4 separate regions of the Homo sapiens genome follow, and regions 1, 2 and 4 are each reported to be linked to region 3. Evidence: microRNA targets listed by miRTarBase, many of them from high-throughput screens and not tested one by one. Region 3 holds a microRNA gene; each other region holds the end of a gene's coding sequence.

The links. Region 3 holds the annotated microRNA hsa-miR-6738-5p (CGAGGGGUAGAAGAGCACAGGGG, at 1,794-1,816, shown strand). A microRNA usually pairs through its seed, bases 2 to 8, with sites in the 3' UTR of a target mRNA and lowers its output. Matches are read on the target gene's strand: a 7mer-m8 pairs with bases 2 to 8, a 7mer-A1 pairs with bases 2 to 7 and ends in A, and an 8mer does both.
Region 1: the mRNA of ZC2HC1A is a reported target of hsa-miR-6738-5p. Seed matches in the 3' UTR shown: 7mer-m8 at 2,777-2,783 and 7mer-A1 at 1,794-1,800.
Region 2: miRTarBase lists FOXK1 as a target of hsa-miR-6738-5p. The part of its 3' UTR that is shown has no 7-base or 8-base seed match.
Region 4: the mRNA of HSD11B1L is a reported target of hsa-miR-6738-5p. Seed matches in the 3' UTR shown: 7mer-m8 at 2,591-2,597.

What each region holds. Positions count from the first base shown.
Region 1 is chr8:78,716,956-78,720,840 of GRCh38, reverse strand. ZC2HC1A (zinc finger C2HC-type containing 1A) reads right to left here. Exons shown (of 9, transcript NM_016010.3): 9 at 1,076-3,513. The coding sequence ends at 3,348. It also overlaps a transcript of IL7 not described here. Among named protein-coding and RNA genes, the nearest start is that of ZC2HC1A, 53 kb to the right of the region's middle.
Region 2 is chr7:4,762,050-4,765,857 of GRCh38, forward strand. It overlaps FOXK1 (forkhead box K1), which reads left to right. Exons shown (of 9, transcript NM_001037165.2): 9 at 135-3,808. The coding sequence ends at 415. Among named protein-coding and RNA genes, the nearest start is that of AP5Z1, 12 kb to the right of the region's middle.
Region 3 is chr1:155,949,240-155,953,124 of GRCh38, reverse strand. MIR6738 (microRNA 6738) reads left to right here and starts at 1,789; the gene lies at 1,789-1,852. ARHGEF2 (Rho/Rac guanine nucleotide exchange factor 2) reads left to right here. Exons shown (of 22, transcript NM_001162383.2): 15 at 297-497; 16 at 890-1,009; 17 at 1,139-1,206; 18 at 1,349-1,384; 19 at 1,592-1,642; 20 at 1,853-2,296; 21 at 2,643-2,826.
Region 4 is chr19:5,686,984-5,690,868 of GRCh38, reverse strand. HSD11B1L (hydroxysteroid 11-beta dehydrogenase 1 like) reads right to left here. Exons shown (of 8, transcript NM_198706.3): 5 at 3,878-3,885; 6 at 3,494-3,587; 7 at 3,201-3,366; 8 at 2,347-3,116. The coding sequence ends at 2,924. RPL36 (ribosomal protein L36) reads right to left here and starts at 574. Exons shown (of 4, transcript NM_033643.3): 1 at 542-574; 2 at 269-363. The coding sequence starts at 361. RefSeq lists enhancers at 1-271, 272-797, 853-902, 2,654-3,153 and silencers at 3,331-3,390, 3,631-3,780, 3,851-3,885.

The DNA of each region.
Region 1 (3,885 bases), not on the chromosome of region 3:
AGATGAAATATTAAAGTAATATTTCAAGGAGTATTTACTAATCCATGTATTGTCCATAAGTGATATGCTTGAGATGCATAATTTTGCTAACAAAATATCATGAAGTGTAATTATTAAATATCTCTATCAATTACTGCAATCCTGGTGCCCCAGTTGAGCTGGGCAAAATTTCTAAAATATAAACACATTATTAAAATCACAACAAAACAAAGAAAACTACCCTTATAAATCTCTGTAGTTTCGTGTTGTCAAAAAATCATATGTATATTGCTGAGAGGCCCTTAAAAAGAATAGGCCGTAATATTATGAAATAATTATCCAAATGCACCCTCTAGTGGCTAAAAAGCAATTCACATATGAGCTAAGCAAAACTGTGTTTAAAATGAGGAGCATTGAGTAACATTTAACTGAAATTTTTCTAAATGAAAATAAAAATTGTGGCTTTAATTTCTCCACAGCTCTATTTAATAATATAGTCATTTGAAAAAAATCAACGTACCTCAATACTAAAAAATACTTACCATGTAAAATACATACACATTCAATGAAAATAAATACCCAAGTGTTCTGATGATTCTTTGTTATCTGTGTTTTCTAATATTTTTTCATCTCCAGAGCTTCTACTCATGGTTAAATGTTCACCTCTAACCTAAGGAAAAAAATCAAACATGTCTAATCTGAAATTTCACTAAATTCCTTTTTAATTTTAAATGTGGTCTAAAATATTATTCATCACAAATAACTTTGCCATTAAACTGTATAGCTCTTAACTAGAAACGTCCATGTTTCCTATTAACCTTGACATCACAAATGTTTGTGACTGCTAAATAGTCTATGAAGATAATGCCTTAAAAAACTTGTAACAAAAACATTTCTAATACTTTGATGTCAGAAAACACTTCAATAAAATGGTAATACATTTTAAAAAGCTGATGGCATAAGAATACAGCCAATGAAAAGCTACTTTTTATTTGTAAAAATCTGTTATTTTTGACTTCAAATATTTTATTTATATTTCATTAGGTTCCTATCTTTCTATGTATGGCTAAAAGACATCAGTGAATACGAACTAGCATTTTTATGCTTCATGTCTTTATTGAATAGGTTCAAATATGAAGACATTATTGGTGAAAAAACAAAAAACAAATAGTGGACAAGAAATAATAGTCACCACAATCATCTTTTTCAACCTAACACAATTCAGAATAATACATAAGCAATTTTTACATTTTTAATCTTACAATCATCTTTTATTCTACCATACTGTCAAATACTTGTGAAAATAAATAAAAATAAAATACATGATGCATAGGAAGATTTTTTTTAAAACTGAACTATTGCACAAATCAATGTGAGAATATGCAAGTAATATAAAAATGCATTTAAATATATTGTCACAACATATTTCGTAAGTCATAAATCTATTTCACCTACTGTTTATAATCTCTGGGCTCTGGAACTAGATGATTTCTTACCAACTCATCTCCATGTGGTACATTATAACATTAATTTACTACTGTAAAATTCAGTGAGAAACAAATGTGTGCCAATTATTTATCTATCCTTTCCTTGAGCAGACAAAAAGAATTATGTGGTCTTAAAAAAATACTTGACAAAAAAACAGTGCTCAGTATTAGATAAAACAAGTTTAAAGTTCTTTATATGATTTATAACAGAAGTGATTTAAATGGAAATCTAATATATGCATTCATCTTCTAAATTCATTACAGCTTATTTTAGTTGATGGACTATTTGTTTCTTTGTTTTGACCAATAAGACTGAATAAAGATAACTGAGGGGAAAAAAATTAACAACTAATCAGGAAATAAACTGTAAGTAAAATGACAATTCCTATTAAGTTTGTAACTCCTGCCCAAACTAAACTAAGCTAATAAATTTCAGATAAATTATAAGCCACAATTCTTTACATTGTGTCTTATAGTTGATCAGAATCATAAACAAAAAAAAAAGCTAGGAATTATATAAGAGATTTGTTTGTACCTTTACAGTAAGATCAAAGCTCTCTTAGGTTTGATTGAATAGAAATTACTACAGAATTACTGCCATCAAGGCAATCTACTACTAACTACTATGATATACTGAAAGTGACAATGATTAAGAGCTGTGTCGTGATCAGGTTAAAGAGAAAAAAATAATTAAATTTGTGTGTATGTTTAATTAGGTAAGTCAATTATGCATTAAAACAATACATTTTCAGTGGGTCCTTAATGTGACGTGAATGGTGTTTCAACATTAAATGCTAAAGATGAAAAAAAGAGTAGGAAAATTAGATATTCTCTTAACCTACTCATAACTACATGTACTTCCAAGAAAAAAAAATTCAAATATTTTTTATCTGCATGCTCTGCACTAATGATTAGTTACCACAACTATTATGATTAGGTGACGTGATTTAAGATGCATTAAAATGATTTATTCTAAATTCAGATACAAAAAATTATATGTTTTTAAACATGTAAGATTTTGCAGGGAATTCTGTGCCTTCTATATTAAATAATTACATTTTCAAATACAGCAAAAAATGAACTAGCAAATTAAAACTATCTTCACGGGTTATGGAAAAAGAGGAAAAGTGAAATCTGGAAAAACAATTGGAAGTAAAAAAATATGTTCAACGAATACATACAGAACTAAAAAAAATCAGTTATAAATAGAACAAGATAGATTTGTATTTTTAGTCTTGTGTATTTGAAAAGGAAATTGCATAATTACACTTTTACAAAACAAGTAAGATGTTTAAATTACGTAACTAATAGAGGGGTTTTTTTTTCTCTTAGTTTTTCGGATTTATGAAATAATTTGTTGACATGCTCTACAGGAGTGACCTTAACATACCTAATGGTAACTAAAACTGTTCTCTTTAATTACAAAATTCCCAGCATCTATCCTACTATGATACTATCTGAAGATAGGCACCAATAATACAAATGTTTATCCAAATTTTTTGCTCAAAGTTATACTTATCCTAAAGCTTGAAGGGCTAAGCACTAGAGTATGAGAGTTTGTGGAAATGTACTTAACGTGCTTTAACAACAACAGAAAAGTAACACCTAAATTAATTGTTCCATTTGAAATTATTTTCTGACAGATAAGTGAATATTTCCTTGAATGACACAGTCTGGGGTATCAGATATTTATTATATACAGTATATGTACACATATAAACATACACACATTATATAGCCAAAAGATTACACTTCAAAATTAACTGGAAATGGTATTTCGAGTATTTTTAGCACAAACTAACTAGAGGATGTGCTCTAGCTGTCCAAGCAGCAATAATCATAAACTCTGAACTTGGCTTTTTTTTTTTTTTGAGATTCTATTCATAGAATCATTCTTCGAATGCCACATTCACAGCAAAATTTGGCCCATTCTACAGGGTATTTAGTCCCACACTCATGGCAGAATTTTGGTAAGTTTCCAGGTGAATGTCCTTCAATGCCTTTAATATTTCCACCATTAAGGGAAGATGCACAGTCCCCATCTGGCCTAAAAAAGTAAAGAAACAATGAAAAGATAAAGTTTGTATCAGTAGTTTTCAACCCATAACCCTGGAGAAACAGGACATAAATATAACAATTAGCCTGCTTAATCTCGTTTTTAATATTCCTCTAGTTCAAATTTTAAAAAATCCTTGTTAGTAAATACTAAAATTCTAACATTTTTTTTTAACATTATATTTATCTGTGTTACGAGAATTTACCATGACCAAATGCAGCCATGCTTTCTGTGTTAGTCTGTTCTCACATTGCTATAAAGAACTACCTGAGACTGGGTAATTTATAAAGAAAAGAGGTTTAACTGACTCACAGTTCTGCAGGCTGTACAGAAAGCTTGGTTGGGGAGGCCTCAGGAAACTTA
Region 2 (3,808 bases), not on the chromosome of region 3:
TAGCCGTCCTGCCTGGCAGGGGTGCACTGACCTCCGGTTCCGGCTTGGTGGCTTAGCCCCTGTATAGGGGACTTGAAAAAAGCAGCTGGGTCCTAACCAGACCCCAGAGTAACCCTCTTCTTCCTCCACTCCAGCCCTCACCAGCCCTTTGCAGCTCCTTGCGACCCAAGCGAGTTCATCCGCGCCGGTGGTGGTCACCCGGGTGTGCGAGGTGGGGCCCAAGGAGCCAGCAGCAGCCGTCGCGGCCACGGCCACCACCACCCCAGCCACTGCCACCACCGCCTCTGCCTCCGCCTCTTCCACTGGAGAGCCCGAGGTCAAAAGGTCCCGGGTGGAGGAGCCCAGTGGTGCTGTAACCACACCGGCTGGAGTGATCGCAGCTGCCGGCCCCCAGGGGCCAGGCACCGGGGAGTGAGGTCACCTGCAACGCGGGGGAGTGGGACTCACCCAGCGGCGACCCCGAAGCTGGACCCGGCAGCTCAGGCGGCCGCACCCACAGACGGAGGAGAACAGCCCGCGGCGGCCTGTGGGCATCGGCGGCACCTGGACACACCCAGCCCTTTCCATTTGATCGCCTGCCTTCCCGTGGTTTAAGACAAAAACACATAAACAAGTTCAGACAACTGATTGTATGATTCTGGGAATTCTTTGCTTTCCTTTCCTTCTCCCTCGGCACCACCTCCTCTCCCCAGGCCTCCCTGTCGGGCATGGGGAGGAGGTTGGAGCTCAGCATCTTGAGGAATGTGTCAAGACAGCCCCTCCGCTCCGCGCTGCACGGCCAGCCGCCTTTGTCCGGGAGGACAGACAGAAACGCAGCAAGGCACACACCAAGGCTGCCGGGGAGGCCCGGGCACCGGACAGATGCCTGTTGGGAAGCCAGGAGCTGCCGAGCCACGGACCACCTAACAGCCTCTCCGCCCGGAACGTGACATAGAGAGTGTTGGCATTAACTCGGGGGGTGTCCGATTTCACTTCAGACCCCAAGTTTTTCTTTGTTTGTTTAAACATGGAATTCAGACTTCATTGTACACCTGAGACAGACACAAAAGGGATCATGTATTTTTGAGGATTTTACCTGTTGACGTCTGATGACCGGCCGTAGGTCCAGGGTTCCCGCTGGGTTTAATCCCCTCGAAGAGTAAACCTGCCGCTCTGTCTGATAACTTCAAGTAAGAGCAGCGGCTTCCTGGGTTGGCGTTCGCGGTGGAAGGTTCCTAGGATGAAAGGTGAGCCTGGATCCGCCGGCCGCAGACATCGCGCTGCTGGGGACGATTGGGGCCGCTGCTCTGCAGACCAGACCTTCCCGAATTATCCGTGGCTCCGATGTCCCGGTGCTGACGGCCACATGGGGACCTAACAGTGCCAAACGCCATCTGCTCCAGCTGCTTTTTCACCCAGTTGCAGAGTCCTCACCACTCCCACATTGATCTGCTGTTTTCAATTGGAACCATTTCTCCTGCCTGAAACTCCAGGGCCCCTCCCTGGGCTGTCCGTGAGCAGGAGACCCCACCCCAGCAGCAGTGGTGAGCAGGCCTGTGCCTCCACGCCCAGCCCCCGCCAACGCGACTGGTTTTGTTTGCCACACGGTGAGAACCGGAGGACGGGATGCTCCAGCCAGTTGGGTGGTTCTGGGGTCCCTGAGGAAGCCCCCTCCTGCACTTCCATTAAGACAGCCAGTGGTTCCTGGATCTTTGTCACCAAGCAGCGTTGAGCCAGAGCTGTCTAATGCTGAGCCCAGCTCAGGAAGGAGAGAGGAGTCCTTCAGTGTGTCTTGGAGATGCGAAGTGCGTCCTCGTAAAGGTCAGCTGTCAGTTTTGCTGGCCGCTCCGGCGCTGGCTCTCCTGTCCGGGACCACAACGAGAAACAGCGACAGATTCGACGCAGAGCTCCGGAAGTGCCTGAGGAGCAGTGGTTCTTGGAAATCGCCCGTCCTCCGCATCACAGCCTCTCACCAGCAAAGCAGCCTCTGCCCAGGCCCTGGCGGGAGAGCTGCAGAGGGACCCAGGTGCCTGGAGGGCATTTGAGGGAGGTGGCTGGACAGGTGTCTCCCTGAAGAAGAAGGGAGAACACTTTTCAAAGTGATTCCGAGGCAGTGCGGGAGGACACACGTGCTGTGCAGTGGAGTGGGGTCGCCCGTGGCCCCCATCAGAGTCCCCGTCCCCCAGGACAAGTGCAGAACCTCTGTGGGCCCCCTCCTTCCACCTAGATAGAGAAAACCCCTTGTTCGGTTTCCTTCCCGTGTCCCGTTGTTTTTCTAAGCCCCCCGAATTGAGTCGTTTCTATGGCACTAACCTTTCCATGGGAAATAAGCTCTTTGTGGAAGTCCGTACCTGTTGCCCTGGGTGAGGTTTCAGAGAAACGGGGGCAGGATGAACACAGCCGGCTGTCCTGGGTGCAGTTACGTCCGTGGAGGGTGAGAGATTGCGCCCCGTTCCACACTTGTGTCGCCTGCTGTTGTCTGTGGGCCTTTTCTTTCCGTGGTGCCTGGTGTGTGCGTGCATGGCGTGAGAGAACGGGGGGTGGGGGTTGGAGGTGGCTCCCCGACACCGGTGCCTGTGTGGCCTGAGCCGGCGCCCTCCCGGGAGCGCCCGTCACGGGGGGCCTCTGTGATTACCTGCTGCTGCTCTCTCCCGCGTGGTGACTATATGTCCTCAGGGCTGCCTGTGGCCACCCTGATGGGAGACCTCTGTTTGCTTCTGGGCCACTGCAGGTTGGCCTCCTCAATACAAGCTGATGTCTGCAGGGAGCGCCGCGTGCTGGGATTGCACCACGTGTTGGTCACAAATCGAGGTCGCCTTTTGGCCTGGTCTGCTCAGGCTGGCCCTGACCCACGTGGTTTCCTGGCTTCTGAGACGCAGCGCATTCTTCCTGTTAGCGGTAGCGTTCTCTGATTTCACTGCTTCATTGCCAAGGGCGTGGAAAGGGGGTGGTGGATGGAGCCGGGAGGTGGCGAGCACAGGACCCCGGGGCTGCATTCTGCCGTGTGGGGTTCTGCACTGTCTAGCTTCTGCGGGGACTGCAAAGAGGGATGAAGGGACGTGGTCCTAGGGGTCGGCTCAGACTCGGAGCAGGGCAGGGAGAGGAGGGCAAGGAGAGGAGGCCTGGGTCCTGGATCCACTGCTCTGGGCTCATAACCATGAGATTTTGAAAGAGTTTTTGGTCATCTGAGCAGGTACCATGCCTGGCTCATGCCGGAACTTGTCTTGGAACCGGTAGCCAGAGGCCCAGGAAGGGACAGGGCCCAAAAGGGTTGCATGTCCCGGCCACAAAGCCCTCCCTGTGTGCCCTGAGCCAGCCCAGCAAGCGCCTCCCAGCCAGGCGCTTTCGCAGAAGCAAGAGCACAGGCCAGGGGGACCGGGAGAGCCTCAGCCCCCAGCCTGGGCGGCCTGTGACCCTGAGCCGTGTGGAGCCAGGACCCAAGAACCTTCTCTAGGTTCTCAAGGGTGAGCTGACCCGGGCAATGTGCAGGAATGTGGGGAGCAAAAGTAGCTGATTCCAGCCCCGTTCTGGGGTCACTGGGGAGGCAGAGGCTGAGGGCCTGTTCTCTGGTCACCAGGGACTGGGGGCACGGTCCACAGCGGATGAGAACAGCAGGTCACAGTAGTGGCTTTGGGAAGGGCCCCTCCTGCTTTGCCCTGTTCGGAAAGGGGCTCCCTCAGAGCCCCTGGGCCCAGTAACCCGCTTCTGTCTCCTGACTCCTGCTGGATAAATTGCCAGGTTTATCAAATACAAGAAAACACCTGCTTTGGCTAGGAGGTAAGTCCCAAAAAGAACGTCTTAAGTAGAGCAAAGGCATCCACCGAGGCCA
Region 3 (3,885 bases):
CCTGGCTAATTTTTGTATTTTAAGTAGAGACAGGGTTTTGCCATGTTAGCCAGGCTGGTCTTGAACTCCTGGCCTCAAGCGATCCACCTGCCTTGGCCTCCCAAAGTGCTGGGATTACAGGTGTGAGCCACTACACCTGACCAACAGAAAGCTTTTTCTTTTTTATAAATGCCAAAATAACAAAATTAAGTCTGCCACACTGCCCCACCCTACCCCTCTCCCCTAGGGCTGTCCTCTACTGGCGCTCTTGCATACCCCTACGTCCTCTCATGTCCTCACTTGTTCCTTATCTGCAGTGGAGTTGCAGCAGAAGGACCGGGCACTGGTGGAGCTGCTGCGAGAGAAGGTCGGGCTGTTTGCTGAGATGACCCATTTCCAGGCCGAAGAGGATGGTGGCAGTGGGATGGCCCTGCCCACCCTGCCCAGGGGCCTTTTCCGCTCTGAGTCCCTTGAGTCCCCTCGTGGCGAGCGGCTGCTGCAGGATGCCATCCGTGAGGGTGAGGGAGCTCCCAGGGAAGAGTCCAGGCTCAAGCACTCACCGTCACAGAATGTGGACATGTGACTAGACATGGACAAACACAGACAAGTGGGATGCCAACCCTATAAACCATAAACGGCCCTGAGTGCCTCTTCTGGGCCAGTTCCTGGGAAAGGCAGGGGAGGAGGTGTGGTCCTTGCTGCTGCTCCATATCGTCCATGCTGCATGGACTCTGCTGCCTCGTAGGCATTTACTGCCCTTTACCTCATCAGTGGTTGTGTGAGTGAAACCCCACTGCCAGTGCAGGGGGCATTCCCCCAGATGCCCAAGTGTCCCACATGTGGGGGTGAATGGCATTCCCCTCAGGGTCCTGTGTCATTCCTGTTCTCACCTCTTCCTCTTTCCCCACAGTGGAGGGTCTGAAAGACCTGCTGGTGGGGCCAGGAGTGGAACTGCTCTTGACACCCCGAGAGCCAGCCCTGCCCTTGGAACCAGACAGCGGTGGTAACACGAGTCCTGGGGTCACTGCCAGTGAGTACCAGGGCAGGGGACCAAGGTAGTAGGTGGGAGGGGCCAAAGTTAGTAGAGTGGTACCAGGGATCAAGTGGTATCAGGGCCCCAGGGAAGTGAGCTCAGCCATCCTTTTCTCCTTCTCAACAGATGGTGAGGCCAGAACCTTCAATGGCTCCATTGAACTCTGCAGAGCTGACTCAGACTCTAGCCAGAGGGTAGGTCCTCAAGAGGTTCTGGGACTTGGCAAGAGGGTGGGAGAGGGACAGCCAGCCTCTGGATCCTCAACACAAAGCTGTCAGGGGCAGGCACCCAGGATTTGTGTGCCTGCTGACTCCCCATTCTTGCCCATTTCTGCAGGATCGAAATGGAAATCAGCTGAGATCACCGCAAGAGGTGAGATGGGAATTGATGGTATAGGAGACTGAAGGGAGGATGTTCTTAGTCTGAGTAGTTAGAGCCCAGTTTGGAGTGGGGTGGGGAAAGCGTCTACATTCAAGTATGTCTCCGGATCCTACTGTCCCCACACCCACCCTTGTTCAACTTTTGGGCAGTTCTCCCATCCTAAAGCTGGGGCCCTGTTCCCACCCTGTCTGTCCTCAGGAGGCGTTACAGCGATTGGTCAATCTCTATGGACTTCTACATGGCCTACAGGTCAGTAGGACAAGGGCTTGAATGGGGAAGGGGAGGAGCCAGGCTAGAGATGCCTGTTTAGGTGGGGCATGGTCATCCCAACAGGCCTTTCTAAATACCCTCCCAATCCAAGCTCTCCAGGAGCGATGATCTGGGCCTTGGAGGGTGAAGGCGAGGGGTAGAAGAGCACAGGGGTTCTGATAAACCCTTCTGCCTGCATTCTACTCCCAGGCAGCTGTGGCCCAGCAGGACACTCTGATGGAAGCCCGGTTCCCTGAGGGCCCTGAGCGGCGGGAGAAGCTGTGCCGAGCCAACTCTCGGGATGGGGAGGCTGGCAGGGCTGGGGCTGCCCCTGTGGCCCCTGAAAAGCAGGCCACGGAACTGGCATTACTGCAGCGGCAACATGCGCTGCTGCAGGAGGAGCTACGGCGCTGCCGGCGGCTAGGTGAAGAACGGGCAACCGAAGCTGGCAGCCTGGAGGCCCGGCTCCGGGAGAGTGAGCAGGCCCGGGCACTGCTGGAGCGTGAGGCCGAAGAGGCTCGAAGGCAGCTGGCCGCCCTGGGCCAGACCGAGCCACTCCCAGCTGAGGCCCCCTGGGCCCGCAGACCTGTGGATCCTCGGCGGCGCAGCCTCCCCGCAGGCGATGCCCTGTACTTGAGTTTCAACCCCCCACAGGTAAGGTGGCCTGCAGTGGTGAATGGACCTGGGGTGGACATAAGGGTCCATGGAGCCCGAAAGAAATTGGGCCATTGGGGATTTGAGCCCAAATGCAATCAGTCAACTGACTTGAAGGATATTGAGATACTGGTTGGAGAACTGAAAAGAAATGTAGATGGGTGCAGGGGTGGAGGAAATTAACTCGGGTCGTGGTGCTGAAAGAGGCCAGTTGGTGGTGGATCTCCTGAAGGGGACTCATGGGTGAGCCCCAGGGGGGAGAGCTGCTGCCTTCAGCCAAGCAGAACCTCCAATCTTCACACTACTCAGTCCCTGACCTGCTGTTCTTCCTGCCCACTGTCCACAGCCCAGCCGAGGCACTGACCGCCTGGATCTACCTGTCACTACTCGCTCTGTCCATCGAAACTTTGAGGACCGAGAGAGGCAGGAACTGGGGAGCCCCGAAGAGCGGCTGCAAGACAGCAGTGACCCTGACACTGGCAGCGAGGAGGAAGGTAGCAGCCGTCTGTCTCCGCCCCACAGTCCACGAGGTGAGACCCTGGCGGAGACATGGACCAGAGGTAGAGTGCAGCCTGGGTACAGGCCATTGGGCTGTGGCTTCCAAATGGGCCCTAACTGACCTGTGAGGCTTGTAGTAACTCTAGGGAGGGACTTCCTGTTTTGTCTGATGATGAATGGGTGGTGGAAGTCTAGGAAGCAGGAGGGGCCTCTCTCCTCCAACTGGTTGGTGATTCCCAACCTTTAGAAGTAAAAACAGATTCTTTTTTAAAAAGGCATGGCGGCTCAGGCCTGTAATCCTAACACTTTGGGAGGCCAAGGCAGGAGGATCGCTTGAGCTCAGAATTTTGAGGCCAGCCTGGGCAACATAGTGAGACCCACCTTCTCTACAAAAAAAAATTCATTTATTTATTTTTTTATTTTATTTAATTAATTTATTTCATTATTATTTTTTGAGATGGAGTCTTGCACTGTTGCCTGGGCTGGAGTGCAGTGGCGTGATCTTGGCTCACTGCAACCTCTGCCTTCCAGGTTCAAGCGATTCTCCTGCCTCAGCCTCCCAAGTAGCTAGGATTACAGGCGCCCACCGCCACGCCCAGCTAATTTTTGTATTTTTAGTAGAAATGGGGTTTCACTATGTTGGCCAGGTTGGTCTTGAACGGCTGACCTCGCGATCCACCTGTCTTGGCCTCCCAGAGTGTCGGGATTACAGGCATGAGCCACCACGCCTGGCTAAATTTTTTTTTTTTTTGAGATGGAATTCTCACTCTGTCGCCAGGCTGGAGTACAGTAGTGAGATCTCCGCTTACTGCAACCTCCGCCTCCCAGGTCCAAGTGATTCTCCTGCCTCAGACTCCCGAGTAGCTGGGACTACAGGCACATGCCTCCACGCCCAGCTAATTTTTGTATTTTTAGAAGAGATAGGGTTTCACCATGTTGCCCAGTCTGGTCTCAATCTCTTGACCTCATGATCCGCCTGCCTTGGCCTCCCAAAGTGCTGGGATTACAGATGTGAGCCACTGCACCCGGTCTATTTTATTTTATTTTATTTTATTTTATTTTATTTATTTATTTATTTAAGATGGAGTCTC
Region 4 (3,885 bases), not on the chromosome of region 3:
GTCAGAACCCCAAACCCGCTGCCCCGCGCCGCTCTCAAGGTGCTCCCTCTGCCCCAGCGTGGATTGCACGGTTGGGAAAAACCCAGATGGGTGCCCGCCTTCGAGCACCAGGCAGGAAGTCCCACTCCCCCACCCCATCTCTTCCATTCAAGCCCCCCTTAGTTCTGCGCCCGAACGCGCGTTCTTTCAGGTCGAGAGCCTTTGCCCAAGCCATGCCCTCCGCCCTCCAAGAAACCCCCGACAACCTCCGCGCGGCACCCGCACTCACCCCGCGGCGTCGGCTGTGCCTGGGCTTGCTCACGTTCTTGGTCACTTTGTGGCCCTTGTTGAGGCCCACGGCCATAGGGTAGCGTAGGGCCATGGCTGCGGACAGCGACGGGGAGAAGGGGCGGAGGTGAGTACCGGCTCAGTTCCCGAGGCCCAGAGCCCCGCGTCCCGGCTCCTTCAGCCTCGCTCGCCACAACCAACCATCCTCCAACCTGCACAGAGGACCCGGGAGTCCGGATGGCGGCGGATACCGGCAGTGCGGGAAACCACTTACCTGCTGCTCTCCAGAGACGGCCGTGGCGGAAGGGCTGGCGCCGCGCGGAACTCCGGGATATCTACTCGGCTCAGGAGGCGCAGGCCAGAGAGGCAAGAACGGCACGCGCTCCCCCTGGCGGCTGGAGTCTTCCCCGCCGTTGCGCTGAGCATGCGCGACCGAGCTCCCTGAGCATGCGCGTTTACTCCTGCGAGCCCGGGAGCTGGAGTCGGAACCAGTGGAGGTGGCTATGGCTGCTCTCCTCCCTCTGCCTGTGAAATGAGTTCGAATCCCAACTCCGCCTATTTCGGGCCGACCCTGCATCGACGACATCACCTCTCAGAATTTCTTCACTTGTAGAGCGGGAATAATAATACCAAACTGTATGAACTGTTAAAACGCCCATTAGGCCGGGCGCGGTGGCTCACGCCTGTAATCTCAGCACTTTGGGAGGTCGAGGCATGTGGATCACGAGGTCAGGAGCTCGAGACCAGCCTAATACGGTGAAACCCCGTCTCTACTAAAAATACAAAAAATTAGCCAGGCGTGGTGGTGGGCACCTGTAGTCCCAGCTACTCGGGAGGCCGAGGCAGGAGAATGGCGTGAACCCAGGAGGCAGAGCTTGCAGTGAGCCGAGATCGTGCCACTGCACTCCAGCCTGGGCGACAGAGCAAGACTCCGTCTCAATAAATAAATAAATAAATAAATAAATAAATAAATAGCCAGGCGTGGTGGCATGCTCCTGTAATCCCAGCTACGCAGGAGGCTGAGGCAGGAGAATTGCTTGAGCCCAAGAGGCAGAGGTTGCAGTGAGCCGAGATCGCACCACTGCACTCCAGCCTGGGCGACAGAGCGAAACTCCATTTAAAAAAAAAGGTATTGGTTTTGTTATCAATTGGTCAAGCTCTAGACTAGGTCTGAATACAGCAACGTGTAATAGTGCCCCTTGCGGACATCTGATGTAATTTAGGTGGTGTAGGGACGGGACGCTAAATAACTGAATCGGGTGGCAGAAACACACAAGTTTCCAGTTTTTCTCCTTTAATGCTACTAATATACAAGAAGAGAGTCTCAATTTAGGGCTGCTCTAATTAGGGTTAGCGCTTTCATGTTTTTTCCAGACAGGGTCTTGCTCTGTCGCCCAGGCTAGAGTGCACTGCTGTAATCATAGCTTATTGTAGCCTTGACTTCCAGGGCTCAAGTGATCCTCCTGCCTTAGCCTCCTTAGCTGGGACCACAGGCACATGCCACCACGCCTGGCTAATTTTTTAATTAAAATATTTGTTTGTGGCCGGGTGCAGTGGCTGACACCTGTAATCCCAGCACTTTGAGAGGCCGAGACAGGGGGATCACCTAAGGCTAGGAGTTCGAGACCAGCCTGGCCGACATGGTAAAACCCCGTCTCTACTAAAAATACAAAAAGTCAGGCGTTGTGACCCACACCTGTAATCTGAACTATTTGGGAGGCTGAGGCACAAGAATCGCTTGAACCCCGGAGGCAGAGGTTGCAGTGAGCCTAGATCGCACCACTGCACTCCAGCCTGGGCGATAGAGTGAGACTCCGTCTAATAAATAAATAAATAAAGACAGGGTTTCACCATGTTGGCCAGGCTGGTCTCAAACTCCTGACCTCAAGTGATCTGCCCACCTTGACCTCTCAAAGTGCTGGGATTATAGGCGTGAGCCACTGCTCCTGGCCCTCTCAGCCTCCATTTCCCCACCTGTGAAATGGGATTGAGAGTCAAGGCCCCTGATACACACACCCCCTCCCGCTGCCCGCTGGCTGCTAGCAAATTGGAATTACCAAGGAATTTGAACAACAGATATGCAAGAGAAGAAGAGTTTTTATTCTCGAACAAGAGGCTGGGTCCAGCTCAGAACACACTCTTTCCCTCCTCCTCCCGCTCAGACCCTGCCACCAGGTAGACGAACAGTGTAGACGCCCCTGCAGGTGTGAAGAGTACCAGAGACCCCAGCTAGGGGAAGCTGGCAGGAGTTGGGGGGGTTCCTCCCAGATGGAATGAATGGAAAGAATAAATCAGGGACTTAAAGGCGCAGGCAGGAGATGGAGAGGGGTCCATGGGTGGCTCAAGGGTGGCGTGGCCTCTCTGAGCCTTAGTTTCCTCATCTGCAAAATGGAAGCAGTCACGTCATCAATCATGGCCAAACAGGTGAGGCCTTGCAAGTCCCCGACAAAGGCGCCTAACACGGGGCACCTGCACCTCCCAAGCCGTGACTGGTTCCAGGTGCCCGTCGTTTTTCTCGGTTTTGCTTTTCTGTCTTGATGACTTCATCTTGGGCTGTGGCCACCCTCTCAGGGGTGTCTCTGTGAGTGTTCTGGCTCCAGGGACAGTTGGAGGGAGGAACATTGCCGTCTGGGACTGGAGGGGCACCCCCCGGTGCTCAGGCTGCCGCGGCCGTGACGTTGAGCTCCTGGCGGATAAACCAGGCCCGCGGGCGCGGTAGCCAGCGCCGGAGCAAGCACAGCAGGCGGAAACGCCACGGGTAGAAGACGCCGGCCGCGCGCGTGGCGCCGCCGCGGATCACGGCCAGGGCTGCCTTGGGCCCCGGGGCCGCCTTGACCCTCGTGACTCCCCTGGGGACAGGAGGGCACGGTGGGGACTGCGGCTGGGGCTGGGCCATGGCCCCCAGCCCAGCCCCCAGCTTGTCCGGGCCTCACCTGACTGCCTCGGCGGCGGAGGCGCGATCTCGGAGGCCCAGGACGCACATGGTGATGGCCACGTTCACGTCCTGCACGTCCAGCTCCCGCCGCAGGGAGCCGAAGAAGCCGTCCAGCGCAAACTTGGCCGCCGAGTAGGGAGTGGAGAACGACGTGGGCACGCGGCCTGGGGGCGCGGACGGCAGCGGCTGAGTGGCTCCCCCTCGTCCGGGAAGCCTGCCCAGACCCTCCAGGCTCACCCGCATCGAGCTCCCCACTCCCCGTCCCGCAGAGCCGGGGCCGGGTGCACGCACCGAGCAGCGAGGACACCACCACCAGGGAGCCCTTGCTGTCCGTCAGGCTGGGCAGCGCCCGCGACGTCAGTTGCACGTAGCTCACAAAGTTTACCTGCAGGCGGCACTCGCGAGTCACCGGCAGAGGCGGAGCCCAGGGGCAGGGCGGGGCCAGAAACCCAGAGGGCGGGGCCAGGGCCGGGTCAGAGACGGGGCCAGAAACCCGGAAGGCGGGTCCGAGGGCGGGGTCAAGGCCGGAGCAGGGGCTTGGGCTAGGAGGGGCGTGGCTGGGGCGGGACGGGTGGAGAGCCCTCCCTGGAGAAGGCAGAACCCGGACCGCGAAGGGAACGGACCACCGGTCCCTGAGATAGAGGGGCGGGCCGGGGCCGCGGAGGAGCGGAGCACCTGCATGA